Regions from separate parts of the Homo sapiens genome. Here all the other regions are linked to region 2. The links come from fine-mapping of genetic effects on gene expression. A gene starts in region 2. Each other region holds a variant in brackets. All regions are shown on one strand. Distances are between the middles of the regions.

Region 1 (5,910 bases), 65 kb after region 2:
TGAGGCAGGAGGATGCCTTGAGCCCAGAAGTTCGAGGCTGCAGTGAGCAGTGTTCATGCCACTGCATTCCAGCTTGGGTGAGTGAGGCCCTGTCTCAACACAAGGACATGTGTAAAATGTCCTCAGGAGTTGATGAAATAATCCAGCCGGGTGTGGCGGCTCACGCCTGTAATCCAGCACTTTGGGAGGCCAAGGTGGGGAGGATCACTGAGCCCAGGAGTTTGAGACCAGCCTGGGCAACATAGCGAGGCCTCAACTCTATTTAAAAAAAGAAAAGAAAAGAATCCATCACAAGTACTTGTCTGTGTGCCCGGCACATGGTAAGTACACAAAGATGGTAGCAATTAGTGTTATCATCATCTGCATCCGTGTCAGTAGCCCACTGGGAAGGCCTGGGTCTCATGTTCTTTTGTCACTGCCTCCACTGAGCTGCCTGCACGAGCCTCTGGAAATTATGAAAGAAGGAATTTTTTTTTTTTTTTTTCCTGAGACGGAGTCTCGCTGTCGCCCAGGCTGGAGTGCAGCGGCGCAATCTCGGCTTACTGCAACTTCGCCTCCTGGGTTCACGCCACTCTCCTGCCTCAGCCTCCCGAGTAGCTGGGACTACAGGCGCCCACCACCACGCCCGGCTAATTTTTTGTATTTTTAGTAGAGAAGGGGTTTCACCATGTTAGCCAGAATGGTCTCGATCTCCTGACCTCGTGATCCAACCACCTTGGCCACTCAAAGTGCTAGGATTACAGGCGTGAGCCACCGTGCCCGACCGAAGAAGGAATTTTTTCTTTTCTTTTTCTTTTTTTTGAGACTGTCGCCCAGACTGGAGTGTAGTGGTACAATCTCGGCTCACCACAACCACCACCTCCCAGGCTCAAGCGATTCTCCTGTCTCAGCCTCCTGAGTAGCTGGGATTACAGTCGCGTGCCACTACCACCCAGCTGATTTTTGTATTTTTAGTGGAGATGGGGTTTCACCATGTTGGCCAGGCTGGTCTTGAACTCCTGACCTCAAATGATCCACTGGCCTCAGCCTGCCAGTGCTGGGATTACAGGTGTGAGCCCCCATGCCCGGCCAGAAGGAGTTTTCAGGTCGAGCTTTTCTAATTTCATGAATGTGGCAATGGAGGCCCAGAGAACGGGCAGGGGGGACTGATACCTCCAGCCGCCCTTCCAGGGTTTTCCAGACACTCTGATCTTCACAATAACCCTATGAGGAAGAGGAGGGTCTACATACACTTCACAGCGGGGACAGGAGAGCCCAGAGAGGCAAAGTGACTCAGCCCAGATCAGGCCTGATCAGCGTCTGGACCCGCAGGCCTGGCTCCTGAGTGCAGGCGGTGCTGGCATCATGACATGGAGCCCAGTGGAGGACGATGGCAGGACACGGAAGGTGCCAGACAGGGACAAAATGAGGCCTGGAGCAGGTGGAGTTCTGGAAGTAAAGCCTCCCACACACCACTTCACTGTCATCCCCTGTCCTGGGGGAAGGAATCCCACCCCCATCTTAACAGATGCAGACACTCAATCTCAGAGAACTAATTGCGTGCCCAAGAGAGGCTGAAGAGAAGTGTGGACCTGGGTCAGCCGGCTTCCCCACGGTGAGGAAGGCCGACGTGGAGAGGCAGGAGGCTGGGCCGGGCCTGAGAGGATATGAGTCTGGAGGTCTCCCGGGTGAACCACAGTGGGTGAGAAATTCTGGAACTGCACCGAGGTCTTGTTGCCATAGAAGAGATACATGCGGCCTGCAGTAGGTGGGGGAGGCAGAGCTCCATCTGAGTCCCTCTGACCCCTTCCCCAAGGTCTCCCTCCGACCCATTCCCACAGTCCCCCGGGACACACCCAGGTTCTGTCGGAACTCTGACTTGACTCCGATCTGCAGCAGCTGGTTCTCGAACAGGACCCCGTTGTTCTTACACACAAACCTGAGGGGGCAGGGGGCGCAAGATGACGGGGGTGCCTGTCTGCACCTGGCCTGGGCTCCGCACCTGTCCCGTTCCCCTCCCCCACCACTCCCAGGACTCACTTATTCAGCAACTCATCGGCTTCCGGAATGGGAGGGCCGATGTCCTCAGGACCTGGGCTGGAGGCATGGAGCAGAGTGAGATGGGAAGGAACTTGGTGGGGAGGGGCAAAGGCCCAGAGCGATTGAGTGCGAGAACAAGCCCTAAGGACAGAACCCCAGAACCACATATCCAGACCCCTCACAGAGCCTCGAGGAACCTCGCATCCATCCAGCAGTGGCCTCCAATGGGAATAGAACCCTGGCCCGTGCCCCCGCATCGGCAGACACCAAGTTTCCCTTTCCTCCAAGTCCCTGCCTCTGCTGCTCATCAGGAACCCGTTGACGAGGGCTCCCAGTCCCCTAACTCTCCCTGGGGACACCCGAGTCCG[C/G]CCCCCCGACCGACCTCCCACCCCAGGCCACCCCTTACTCAGCAGCTGGAGCTGGGTCAGCCAGCAAAGCCATGGGGCTCTCGGGGGCAGGCGGCTCCAGCTCGCTGAGCCATCCAATCCCAGAGCAGACAAGAGAAGACAGGCGTGGCAGGCAGCCAATTCCACATAGGCAGCGAGAGGGCAGAAGAGAGACAGAGAGGGAGGGACGGAAGAGGGAAGGAGAGAAGGAGAAAAGGAAGAGCAGGCTGAGAAACGGTGACAGGAAAGGAGACAACGAAGGGTGGCCAGGGTCGGCGGAGTCCAGAGTGGCAGAGGGAGGGCGTGAGCAGGGAGGCTGGGGCAGGGGAGGCAGCAGCCAGGGCTGGCGAAGGCATCAGGATGGAGAGAGGAGCGAGTCGGGGGCGGGGGAGGGGCTCAGGGAAAACGGGGACAGAGGCCGAGAAGGGACAGCCCTGGGGGTGGCCGCGAGAAGGGGCCCGGGCCCAGGGGGTGCTACCTGAGGAAGGCCTCCTCGGGGGTGGGCCCCAGGCTGGGCTGGGCGGCCGGGCCATCGAAGACGTCCACCAGAAGGTTCCCTGCTCCTGCAGAAGCCGGGGGTGCTGCCGGGGGAGGGGCTGCCCGCAGCCCCAGGAGGTCGGCGGAGGGCGAGGGCGTCGACTGTAGGAAGCGCAGGTCACGGTGAGGACAGGCGGCGCCCGGCAGGACCCAGCCCCAGGCACCCTGGCAGGGCCCACCCCAGGGGACTCACCACAGTGCTGGGGGTGGGCTCCATGCCCCCGTTGATGTCGTTGCTGCTGGGGTCCCTCCGGCCATCGTCCAGGGCGCTGCCGGCCCCTGGCCCCTTCTTGCGTTTCAGCTTGGCCAGGATGGACGACTCGCGCTCGGGGAAGGGCGGCATCTCCTCCAGCACCGTGGCCTGGCGCGGTCGGGGTGGGGAAGGTCAGTTCGGGTCAGGAGGAGGGGAGGGCGGGAAGGGGGTGTGCAAGAGGGGTGGGGTGGGGGGACAGGGCTCTGACCAGGACGTCGGTGCTGGCCACTGAGCTGAGGGTGAGGTACTCCACGGCTCGCTGCTGCAGCTCCACGTCAGCATTGCGCAGCTGGGAGCCGGCCCGCAGGACGCCCTGGATGGTGGCCTTGGTCTCGGGGAAGAGGTTGATGAACTTGATGTAGGTGGACAGCAGCAGCGCCCGCGTGGCCACGCTGCACAGATGGAACTTGGAGTGGAGCAGGGAGAACTGCACTGGGGGGCTGTGTGCAGGAGTGGGTGTCAGCGGGGCCAGGTTCCACTGCCCTCTCCCAGAAACCCCCTCGAGAGGTGCCCCTCCCTAGGATGGACCCGTCCCAGGACCCCAAGCTGCTGGAGGGGAGTGGCCCTCCCCAGGCACCAGACAGGGGCCGCAGTCACACTCTGTCCACGATCCTGGGACTAAGCTCCTTTCTTACCCTGCTAGGTGGATTGGGGTGGAGGCCGAGAGGATGGGAGCCCATCACTGCCTGCCCTGAGACCCCTGGGGATCCCCCAAGCCCTGGACCCCTCAGAAGCATGTGTGTTCTCCCCTGCAGGCTGAGGCTCCCTCACCTGGAGCGGGGGTCCCCAGCAATCAGGTTCCCAAACTCCCCAAGGATGTAGCCGCCAACCTTCACCATGTTCTCGTGACAGGCAGGGGCCTGGAGCGCCTGAGTGGGGTGGGGAAGGGCGTGGAGAGGACAACAATGAGCGCCCTCTCCGGGATCGGTGGGTGCAGCCACCTACTGACTGGTGGAACACTGAAAGCTCTGCTGCAGGTGGGGTTATAGGTGGGAAACTGAGTCACAGAAAGGTTGAGTGACGGGCCCAAGCTCACACAGGAAGTAAAACAGGGCTGTGGGCCGGAAGCAGTGGCTCATGCCTGTAATCCTGGTACTTTGGGAGGCCGAGGCGGGCAGATTGCCTGAGCTCAGGAGTTTCAAACCAGCCTGGGTAACATGGTGAAACCCCGTCTCTACTAAAAATACAAACAAATTAGCTGGGTGTGGTGGCGCGTGCCTGTAGTACCAGCTACTGGGGAGGCTGAGGCAGGAGAATGGCTTGACGCTGGGAGGCCGAGGTTGCAGTGAGCCGAGATCGCACCACGGCACTCACTCCCCACTCCAGCCTGGGCAACAGAGTGAGACTCCGTCTCCAGAAACAAACAAACAAACAAACAAAAAACAGGACTGTGTGGGGCCCCTTTCCTGGGGCAGAGGGAAACTACCGAGATCCGGGGGCCAGGACTGCACACTGGGTGCCCCATGCCCATGCCCTGGGGACTCCTCACATCAGGCCCATGAGACCATAGCCCTGGGTCCCCTGGGTTGGCCCAGAGAGGCAGAGGCCCCATTTTGAGGTCACGGCAGTGCAGGAGAAGGAGGGTGGCTGCGGGCTGGCAGGCGCCACGGCCCCGGCCATCCTTGCTCTGCCTCTAGGTCCTGTCGTGGGGTCATAGGGTCAGGGTCAGGGATGCTGACCTCAAAGACGGTCTTGGCGGCATAGCCCTGGACGTCATCACGGTTGGTGACGATCTGTAGCACACGGTACCACACCTCCTCACTCACGTAGTCGCCCGCAATGCGGATGAGGTTGAGGATGGTGTCCACGTACCAGCTGTAGTCCACGGCGTACTTCTCGGCCAGGATGGCCACCTTCAGGACCTGCCGCCGGGGCGTGTGAGAGAGAGTGTGCCGCAGGCCATGTCGGGCTTTCACTCACCTGGATCTGGGCTCACCACTGCCCCCATCTGGAGACCCAGGAGTCCAGGCCCCAGCCCCTCCTCCCTTAGACTTAGGAATCCAGGCCCCCAGCCACCTCCTGCCTCAGACCCAAGAGTCCAGCCCGCACCCCACAGCACTCACGATCTCCTCGCGGATGGCGTAGTCTGCCGTCTCCAGGTACCGCAGCATCTCCGACACGATCTGCTTGGCATTGCTCCGGTCACACATGGCGTAGAGGAGGTCAGCCGCCCGCTGCCGCACGCTGACGTCCCGCTCCGTCTGAGGGCGGAGAGCAGAGCCCAGGTGTGTTTTAGACTCCCTGTTGGCACAGGGTTGGCCACCCAAGGGCCTCTGAGCCTCTGGTCTTTCTGAGGGGGGTGGCAGGCCCGGGGTGGGCTCCAAGGGCTCACACCTTGAGGGCATTGATGACGGTGTCAATGTGCGTCTTGACGGCTTCATGGGAGAACTCGGAGCTGGCCAGCGTGCACATGCTCTCCAGGGCCAGGTAGCGCAGGTTGGTCTCCCGGTGCTGCAGGAACTGGCCCAGCTGGTTGCAGGCCCGAACCAGGAGGTTGGGCTCACTGCCAGCAGGGGCCACAAGAGAGGGATGGTGAGAGAAACTGACAGGAGAAGGTGGAGGACTCGGGCCCCAGCTGACCCATCTCACAGCCCCCAAGGATCCAGGTCTTAACCTTGCCGGCCTTGCATCGCAGTACTGCACCTCCAGTGACCCAGACAACTGGGCCTTTGAGCCCAGAGAAAGATACCTAGCAATTCTGCCCCCAGGAAGGGC
Region 2 (4,000 bases):
TCTTTTTTTGATTGGCTCAAATCCTGTAAAGGGCTTGACCAGTCTCTACATAGTCACCGTCCGCTTTTCCTGAGTTCTCCCTCCCAATTGGCTCCAGCTTCCTGGGGGCGTGGCCAAGCCCTCCTCTTCCCAGAATTGGCCCGGGGCCTTCAATTTACGTTCTTTACACTACGGGGACTGGGGTCGTCTTTGCCCACGTCCCGACAACTTGTTCCCTGACCCCCTCAGGGATGGCCCCAAACTGTCCCTGCCTCTGGCACCCCCTTTCATTGGTTCCATCCATCCCCACAACAGCCTGCCAATCGAAGCCCGTCCCTGCATCCAGGATGGTACCAGCTCCCGCCCCTCGCCCCCCACCTCCACAGGTGCCTTAAAGGGCCCTCGTCCACCCAAGGTGGGGGGCAGGGGCCCTCACTCTCCGGCCCTGGTGTGGGGGAGAGAGTGAGGGGTTGGGGGATCGGCAGTTGGGAGGGGCGCTCTGAGATTAAAGAGTTTTACCTCTGAGATAAATGTGAAGTGTGTTGTGAGTGTTCATTCAACATTTTCTGAAACCGAATGGCAGCGTCTGATTATCAGTGAATAGCTGGGGGTTGGAATTACTGTGCCCATTTTATTTACTTTTTTGAGACAGGGTCCCACTCTCGCCCAGGTTCAAGCGATTCTCCTGCCTCAACCTCCCGAGTAGCTGGGATTACGCGCCACTGCCGCCCGGGTAATTTTTGTATTTTCAGTAGAAACAGGGTTTCATCATGTTGGTCAGGATGGTCTTGAACTCCTGACCTCAAATGATCCACCCGCCTTGGCCTCCCAAAGTGCTGGGATTACAGGCGTGAGCCACGGCGCCTGGCTTTGTGCCCATTTTATAGATATGAAGACACAGGTTCATGGGGTGGAGGAGAGCATCCCAGTCTTATGTGACCATGGAACCCAATCTTGAGGAGGTGAGTGTTGGAGACAGAGCCCACATATTCACCAGCAAAGCCAGGAACTCCAGCCGGGAGTCTTCTATTATAAAAGGACTGGAGCAACTGGGCTTGGTGCCTCACGCCTATAAGCCCAACACGCTGGGAGGCCAAGGCGGGAGGATCACATGACACCAGGAGGTCGAGATCAGCCTGGGCAGCACAGTGAGACCCCTTCTCCAAAGGGAAAAAAAAATGGCTGGAGGTTAGAAAGCAGGTGGAACCTCGTCCGAAATTAGGACTAGGTAAACGTAGTCCCACCAGACCACTACCGAAAGAATGCTAACACTAAATAAGACTTAAACGGATCTGAGCACTTTGGGAGGCCGAGGTGGGCGGATCACGAGATCAGGAGATCGAGACCGTCCTGGCTAACACGGTGAAACCCCGTCTCTACTCAAAATACAAAAAATTAGCTGGGCGTGGTGGCGGGCGCCTGTAGTCCCAGCTACTCGGGAGGCTGAGACAGGAGAATGGCGTCAACCCGGGAGGCGGAGCTTGCAGGTGAGCCGAGATCGCGCCACTGCACTCCAGCCTGGGCGACAGAGTGAGACTCCGTCTCAAAAAAAAAAAAAAAAAAAGACTTAAACAGGGCTCACTACCACCCATTTTTTAAAGCTTTTGTCACGTGTTAGCTCCTTTAATCGTCATGGTAACCCCACGAAGCGGAAACGATTATCCTTTTTATAGATGAGGAAACTAGAACATCGAGGGTGAAGCCAAAGAAGGACTTAGGGGCGCTGTCGGGGGCGGAGGTTTCCTCGACTGACAATGACCATCAGATGGGAAAAAAATCTTCCTCCCTGGGATGAAAATTAGAAGTCAAGGTGGAAAGAGGCAAATCTGCTAACGGAGGATCCAGTCCCCGCTACCGGCCTGAGCCTCGCGTTGCAGCAAGAGAGATGAAGGTCAGGGCTGCCGAGAGACCCTGGGGGCCGGGAGTCGGGGAAGGGGCGTGGCTGCTGTGGGAGGAGGCCAGGCCCCGCCCCCCACCCACGAGGGGACGAGTCATTTCCGTCCGCCGAGGAACCGACCGCCGCCGGCCGGGTTGCAGGCGGGGCACCTCGGGCAGGACCTCCCTGGTCGGAAGTGGCCGTGAGCCCAAGCCGCGGTCCCGGGTGAGTACGGGGCGGGGCGGAGGCATGTGCGAGGCTCTCTGCCTGTACGCTGGAAAGTGGGGATTGCAACTCGGGGAGGGATGGAGCACGCGTCGTCGCCTGGGAAACGGGTCGACCCGCGGAAGGCGAGCGGGTGGGACTTCCGGAGCAGTTAATGGTGGGGAAACTTTCTAGTGGATGTGGGAGGAGGCGGGACTTCCTGCAGCAAATTGGGGCTGTGCGCCGCTCAAGCCCGTTTACCTGCTCCCCAGGCCGGCACCCAGGATGGGCGAGGTGGAGGCCCCGGGCCGCTTGTGGCTCGAGAGCCCCCCTGGGGGAGCGCCCCCCATCTTCCTGCCCTCGGACGGGCAAGCCCTGGTCCTGGGCAGGGGACCCCTGACCCAGGTTACGGACCGGAAGTGCTCCAGAACTCAAGGTGAGCGGGGCCTGAGCTGGAGGGGGTGTGGCCTGCTGCAAAAGCGGGAACAATCCAGAGGGACGCTTGGCTGCTACGCGGGATTGCAGTGGTGCAGCCAGCCCCGAAGTCGGAAGGTGCTCTCTAGGGAGTACAGGAAGATAAAGTTTGTGCTTGATTTAGAATTAGCTAGATCCTTTGGGGGAGAGGGGATCGAGCCGATTTAGGGAGGATGTTCACTGCGCGGATGATGCTCAGGCCATCGGGAAATCCAGAAACAGGCGACGACCTTCGTCAAGAGAAAAATGATCCTGTGGAGAAAAGTAAATGTCGCTAGGTTGGGATGGATGGTAACAGGCCAAGCCCCGGACCTATATCTAGCCACATTTTTTGTCAAGGAGGAAACCAATTCTGTAGAGAAAAGTACCTCCCTGTCCCTTGCAAGGACCAGTGTCAGGCAATCCTAGTGCCACTATCTGGCTACTGCATGTCAAGGAGCCAATCCCATGTAGAAATAAACTGCCTCTTACTCCCTGGATGCTATAGCCTGAAGCAGGCCACACTCCCCAGAAATGAGGGACCCAATCACACAAGGATGCAAATCCTGACTCCACCCCTCCAATCCTCAGTGGAGCTGGTCGCAGATCCTGAGACCCGGACAGTGGCAGTGAAACAGGTATCAGTGCCTCTGCAAGGGCCAGCAAGGCCTGGGGATGGGATTTGGGGAGGAATTGCAAGCCGTCAGTGAAGGGGTACATTAGGAAAATCTGATTGGGGCCGGGCGTGGTGGCTCAAGCCTGTAATCCCAGCACTTTGGGAGGCCGAGGCGGGCGGATCGCTTGAACCCAGGAGTTCGAGACCAGCCTGAGCGACATGGTGAAACCTGTCTCTCTAAAAAATTAGCGGGAATGGTGGCGCGTCCTTGTAGTTCCTAATCGGGAGGCTGAAGCGGGAGGATCCCTTGAGCCCAGTAGGTCAAGGGTGTAGTGAGCAGTGATCACCACACTGTACTTCAGCCTGGGTGACAGAGCGAGAACCTGTCTCAAAAAAAGAAAAGAAAAAATATGGCTGGGAGAGAAGGGGATGTGTCCAGTAAAGAAAGAAGTGTTGCCTGTTTCAGTGGGGTGGGTACCTGTCCAAGACCTTAGAAATTGGACAAGGCGGCCAGGCGCGGTGGCTCACGCCTGTAATCCCAGCACTTTGGGAGGCTAGGCGGGCGGATCACCCGAGATCAGGAGTTTGTGACCAGCCTGGCCAACATGGCGAAACCCCATCTCTACTAAAAATACAAAAATTAGCGGGGCATGGTGGCGGGTGCCTGTAATCCCAGCTACTCGGGTAGCTGAGGCAGGAGAATCGTTTGAACCCAGGAGGCACAGGTTTCAATGAGCCAAGATTGCACCACTGCACTCCAGCCTGGGCGACAAAACAAGCCTATATCTCCAGGGGAAAAAAAAAAAAAAAAAAAAAAAAGATTCGGACAAGGCTGAAAACCTGTAACCGTTCCAAAGCCCGTTCCAAAGTGA
Region 3 (5,910 bases), 22 kb after region 2:
TGAAAAAGCTTATAAAAACCTAGGAAGACTCAGCCCCCAGTTTGTTTCATAAATGTCTTTAGGTTCTCAAGCCACTTAAAAAAATGACTCATTGTGGTTTGTGGGTGGAGCTTATACAAGAATGTGATGTTCTACTGGGCGCAGTGGCTCATGCCCGTAATCCCAACACATTGGGAGGCTGAGGTGGGAAGATTGCTTGAGCCCAGGAGCTCGAGACCAGCCTGGGCAACACAGTGAGACTCCCACCTCTACAAAAACAACAATAATTTTCTAGGCATGGTGGCATGCACCTGTGGTCCCAGCTACTCAGGAGGCTGAGGTGGGAGGATCTCTTGAGTCCAGGAGATTGAGGCTGTAGTGAGCCGTGTTCACACCACTGCACTTCAGTCCAAGTGACAAAGTGAGACCCTGTCTCAAAAACAAGAATGTAATGTCGTGTGCTAACTAGGAGACCAATACTGAAAGAAAGGGTCTTGGTCCTACGTACAAGAGATGTCTGTTTAAATGTTCTTGGTTAAAATAAGATGTTTAAAGTGTTAAGATGGCCGTTAGTGCTATTTGCCATATATTTCTAGCTCCACACTTGGCCAGCATTTGACCCCATTTAGCTTGAGTGCGGCCATGTGATTAATTTTGGCCAGTAAGGTGTGAGGCCATGTGATTACATCTGGCCAATGAGATATGAGCAGAAGTGACACATGTGAATTCAGCAAGAGCACATAATTGCTAATGGAAGACCAGACCCCTCTGCCTTTACTATGTCCATTGGCAACCTTCATGATCTGTCCGCACGGGCTCCAAGCTGACACTCAATACAGCACGAGTGACAAAATCCACCTTGGCTGTTTCAAGCCACTGCAATCTGGGGGTAATCTGGCCTTTCCTGATATACACAATTTTTTTTTCCCAAATAATCCCAGTTTAACCAACATTTGTTAAACCAATCAACTACCAAGTCTGAGTTTCCTAGAAGAACAAACTGGCAGTACATATAGGTTGGATGACATAGGCTAGGACACAATGACAACATGGACAAAGTGTTTTATACTGGCCGGGCACGGTGGCTCATGCCTGTAATCCTAGCACTTTGGGAGGCTGAGGCAGGTGGATCACCTGTTGTCAGGAGACCAGCCTGGCCAACCTGGTGAAACCCCATCTCTACTAAAAATACAAAAATTAGCCAGACGTGGTGGCAGGCGCCTGCAATCCCAGCTACTCAGGAATACAAATACAGTCTCCTGATTGATCCTCCAATTCAAGCAGGAGAATTGCTTAAACCCGGGGAGGCGGAGGTTGCAGTGAGCTGCACTCCAATCTGGGCGACAGAGCGACATTCTGTCTCAAAAAATGCTAATAGGCTGGGTGCGGTGGCTCACACCTGTAATCCCAGCACTTTGGGAGGCTGAGGCGGGCAAATCATGAGGTCAGGAGTTCAAGACCAGCCTGGCCAACATGGTGAAACCATGTCTGTACTAAAAATACAAAAAATTAGCTGGGCATGGTAGTGGGTGCCTGTAATCCCAGCTACTTGGGAAGCTGAGGCAGGAGAATCACTTGAACCCAGGAGGCGGAGGTTGCATTGAGCTGAGATTGTGCCACTGCACTCCAGCCCAGGTAACAGTGTGAGACTCCGTCTCAAAACAAACAAATAAAAAAGATAATAAAATGCTTTATGCTAAGAAATGGGAGTAAGATCATCTCTGGCTTGGATTTTTCTTTTCTTTCTTTGCAATTACAAAATAGTTTATGGCTGATTTTTTTTTTAAAGGTCTGCCTGATACATGCTTTGCAAACTCTAGGTATTTCAACTTTGTCATCATCGTGTGTGTCCAGACGCAGAGGCTCACACCTGTAGTTTCAACACTTTGGGAGGCTGAGGTTGGAGCATTGCTTGAGCCCAGGAGTTTGAGACCAGCCTGGGCAACATAGCAAGACCCCATCTCTACAACTATAAAACTAGCCAGGCGTGGTGTTACATGTCTCTAGTCCCAGCTACTCTGGAGGCTGAGGTAGGAGAATTACTTGAGGCCAGGAGTTCGAGACCAGCCTGAGCAACAGAGTAAAACTCTGTCTCTACAAAAAATACAAAAATTAGCTGGGCATGGTGGTGCGTGTCTGTAGTCCCAGCTACTCGACAAGTGGAGGTGGGAAGACTGCTTGACCCCTCTAGGCAGAGGCTGCAGTGAACCAAGGTCATGCCACTGCACTCCAGGGTTGACAGAGTGAGACCCCTGGCAATAATAGTAGTTAATATTTCTCAAGAACTTCATGTCTGAACTCACTGAATTCTCACACAGCAGGCCATGAGTTCAACAATCTTTTAATCCCCACTCCACAGATGGGGAAACCAAGGATCTGGAAGCAAAAGCCTGACGTCACAGGCTGCGGAGACACGGGACAGGGACAGGGCCCAGGTTCTTAATCTCAGTAGGTGTTGGCCTCCACTTTGTGGAATAAACAAGGGGCCAAGCCCCTCGGGCTTGGGACCGTCTTACCCTCGTCACTGCCGCGCTTCTCAGCCTCTCTGCCACCATCTGCCCTCCAGCACAGACCATGCTGAGTGTTCCCAGATTGTAAAAGACATACATCTGCCCTATCCCCAAACCCAGCGTCCTGGGTTTGAGATTACAGGCAGGAGCCACTGTGCCCAGCCCCCTGGGCTATTTTTAAAAATAAATAAAATGAAGGCTTTTTGTCCAAACTTCAAGATATGTTGTTAGATTGAAAAACAAACAAAAAAATGATAGAATAAAGGAGATTGCCACTGGATAGAAAAGCCAGAAAATCAATCAGTTTCTCTATTTGCTTGTACCTGCTTATACGTCTCTCTGAAAAGACACTTAAGCAATTGGTAACTGATCTCTAGAGGGAGCTGAGAGAGACTGCATTGGTTGGTTTCTGGAGCCCCTCCAAGTGTGAACCATAGGAAGGTTTCTCGTATATGCGAAACATGAATACAACATTTTTTGGGTCATGTAAATAAAGTTGGCATACTTAGTTTTGAAATTCTGCTGCTGGGAATGCATCCCATAGGAATGCCTGCACAAGTGGGTTAAAAAAATACACATTCATCCTCTCCAGCATGTCTGATAATAGTGAAAAACTGGCCGGGCGTGGTGGCTCACGCCTGTAATCCCAGCACTTTGGGAGCCC[G/A]AGGTGGGTGGATCACTTGAGGTCAGGAGTTCGAGACCAACCTGGGCAACATGGCAAAATCCCATCTCTACTAAAAATACAAATATTAGCTGGGTGTGGTGGTATGTGCCTGTAATCCCAGCTACTCGGGAGGCGGAGGCTGCAGTGAGCTGAGATCACACCAGTGCACTCCAGCCTGGGCAATAGAGCGAGACTCCATCTCAAAAAAAAAAAGAAGAAATAAAAGAAAAACTGGACAGGCCCTCAACTGGCAGGGTGCAGTGTGGTGGGCACCCTGAAAGACAGCCCCCATGACCCTCACCTCCTGTCTGCACTGTCCTCTCAGCTTGAGTGTGGGCAGAACCTAGCAACTTGTTGTAATGTACAGAATATAGCAAGAGTGACAAGATATCACTTCCAAGATTGGGTTACAAAAGACTGCAGCTTCCACCTTGGGCGTCCTCTCTCATTTCTGTTTTTCTTTTTTTTTGAGACAGTTTCACTCTTGCAGCCCAGACTGGTGTGCAATGGTGTGTTCTTGGCTCACTGCAACCTCCACCTCCTGGGTTCAAGCGATTCTCCTGCCTCAGCATTCCGAGTAGCTGGGATTTCCCAGATGCCTGCCACCACGCCCAGCTAATATTTTGTATTTTTAGTAGAGACAGGGTTTCACCATGTTGGCCAGGCTGGTCTCAAACTCCTGACCTCAGGTGATCCACCCGCCTTGACCTCCCAAAAGTGCTGGGATTACAGGCATGAGCCACCGCACCCAGCCCTTCTCATATTTCTAGAGAAGCTGGATGCCACATTGCAACTGCAAGGTGCCCTGTGAAGAGGCCTGCAACGGCGAGAAAACAAGGGAGACCTCCAGCCAACAGCTAGGAACTGAGGCTCTCGGCCCCATCACCTGTGAGGAACTGAATCCTGCCAACAGGCATGTGAGTGGGCTGGAAGTGGGCCCTCCTCACGGAGCCTTCCGATGACTGCACAGCCCCAGCCACCAGCTCGACCGCAACCCCGAGAGCCTGGGAGCCAGCAGCTCAGCCAAGCCTGGATTCTTGACCCCCAGCAACGGTGAGGCAATAAATGCTTCTTGTTTTAAGCCACTCGGTGGTGGGGTTTGTTACACAACAGATAACTTATAGGCAGGATGGCTCGTGGAACTGAAATGCGTCCATTTAGTGCACTACCTGAGGCCACCATGAGAAGTGGGGACATAGAGGAACAGGTAATTAACAGTGCAGGCAGGCCAGGTCGGTGGCTCACACCTGTAATCCCAGCATTTTGGGAGGCTGAGGTGGGCAGATCACCTGAGGTCAGGAGTTTGAAACCAGCCTGGCCAACATGGTGAAACCCCATCTCTACTAAAAATACAAAAATCAGCTGGGCATGGTGGTGGGCGCCTGTAATCCCAGCTACTCGGAAGGGTGACGCAGGAGAATCGCTTGAACCTGGGAAGTGGAGGTTGCAGTGAGTCGAGACTGCGCCACTGCATTCCAGCCTGGGCAACAGAGTGAGACTCCGTCTCAAAAAAAAAAAAAAAAAAAAAACCCGAAAAATTAGCCAGGCATGGTGGCTCCTGCCTGTAATCCCAGCTACTTGGGAGGCTGAGAATAGCTTGAACCTGGGAGGCAGAGGTTGCAGCGAGCTGAGATCACGCCACTGCACTCCAGCCTGGGCAACGGAGTGAGACTCTGTCTATAAATAAATAAATAAATAATGGCCATTACTTTGGTTGGAAGAAAAAAAAAAGCAAGCTAAAGAACAAAGAAATTGACTCACTTATACAAAAAAATTAAACTATAAATATATCCACAACCGCATGCATGTAAACCCAAATGCAGAACTGGTACATCAGCCTCTAGGGAGGTAAGTGGTTTGCTCAGGGTGTGTGTTTGGGCAGGAGAGGCGAGAGTGAGGTGTGATAGGGTAGTTCCACTTTTTGTTGTTGTTTTTGAGACAGAGTCTTGGTCTGTCTCCCAGGCTGGAGTCAGTGGCACAATCTCTGCTCACTGCAGCCTCTGCCTCCTGGGTTCTAGTGATTCTCGTGCCTCAGCCTTCTGGGTAGCTGGGATCACAGGCACATGCCACCATGCTGGCTAATTTTTGTATTTTTAGTAGAGATGGGGTTTCACCCTGTTGGCCAGGCTGGTCTCGAACTCCTGACCTCAGGTGATCTGCCCGCCTTGGCCTTCCAAAGTGCTGGGATTACAGGCGTGAGCCACCATGCCTGGTGGTACTTCCACTTTTTATTCCACACATTTCAGCGCCCTTTCATTTTGGGAAACTGTTGTAGTGTGTGTAACTCAATATATTTTAAAAGTTAATTTTTTTTAAATGCCAAGATGGTAAGAAAATACATGTTAGTGTTTTGTGTACCTTGAAACAAATATATTCTTAACACCCCTTTTGAGAAGGTGTCCTTTTTCTCATAATCCTTTGGAGGTGGGTGGGCATTTTCTTTCACCCCGAACAGGTTTCCAACTATTAATATGTTGGTGTTTTAGCATTTTTGCCTCAACAATCACTTTTTTCCAATTACGTCCTACCACCTGCTCCTTTGCAAGAATTTTCATGAATCCCCAGTCTTGCCTCCAGTCATGATGCATGATTCAAAAGCAAACTGGTCAAAAAGAAAATGTTTCCAACAAGTCACTCACTCAATTATAACCTTTCTGGACACAAGTGATTTTTGTAAGTTAGGATGCTTTTTTTTTTTGAGACAGAGTCTTGCTCTGTCACCCAGACTAGAGTGCGGTGGCACGATCTTGGCTCACT

Direction of the effects. Alleles are on the strand shown, and positions count from the first base shown. SD is a standard deviation of normalised expression in the study named. Not every link is listed here.
For the expression in CD8 T cells of the gene that starts at base 1,973 in region 2, G is the high allele of the variant in region 3 and A is the other (large effect, 1.1 SD a copy in CEDAR).

The links. PIP is the estimated chance that this variant, and not a neighbour inherited with it, causes the effect.
Region 1: its variant is the best candidate, but not a certain one, in a credible set for the expression of PNKP in whole blood (INTERVAL, PIP 0.82).
Region 3: its variant is the best candidate, but not a certain one, in a credible set for the expression of PNKP in CD8 T cells (CEDAR, PIP 0.81).

The regions. Positions count from the first base shown.
Region 1 is chr19:49,799,115-49,805,024 of GRCh38, reverse strand. AP2A1 (adaptor related protein complex 2 subunit alpha 1) reads right to left here. Exons shown (of 23, transcript NM_130787.3): 9 at 5,530-5,698; 10 at 5,259-5,396; 11 at 4,875-5,057; 12 at 3,967-4,064; 13 at 3,404-3,635; 14 at 3,136-3,303; 15 at 2,884-3,044; 16 at 2,020-2,076; 17 at 1,836-1,918; 18 at 1,649-1,738. It overlaps LOC124904742 (a long non-coding RNA gene), which reads left to right and starts at 4,875. Exons shown (of 2, transcript XR_007067290.1): 1 at 4,875-5,420. RefSeq lists enhancers at 1,438-1,951, 1,952-2,467, 4,301-4,801. The variant C/G (reference allele first, on the strand shown) is at 2,388.
Region 2 is chr19:49,865,549-49,869,548 of GRCh38, reverse strand. PNKP (polynucleotide kinase 3'-phosphatase) reads left to right here and starts at 1,973. Exons shown (of 17, transcript NM_007254.4): 1 at 1,973-2,080; 2 at 2,332-2,495; 3 at 3,104-3,150. The coding sequence starts at 2,345. It overlaps AKT1S1 (AKT1 substrate 1), which reads left to right. Exons shown (of 5, transcript NM_001098633.4): 5 at 1-510. RefSeq lists silencers at 1,837-2,136, 2,207-2,576 and enhancers at 1,736-2,517, 2,518-3,300, 3,301-4,000.
Region 3 is chr19:49,842,612-49,848,521 of GRCh38, reverse strand. It overlaps PTOV1-AS1 (PTOV1 antisense RNA 1), which reads left to right. Exons shown (of 4, transcript NR_040037.1): 2 at 1,769-1,799; 3 at 3,630-4,206. Among named protein-coding and RNA genes, the nearest start is that of PTOV1, 5.6 kb to the left of the region's middle. The variant G/A (reference allele first, on the strand shown) is at 3,154.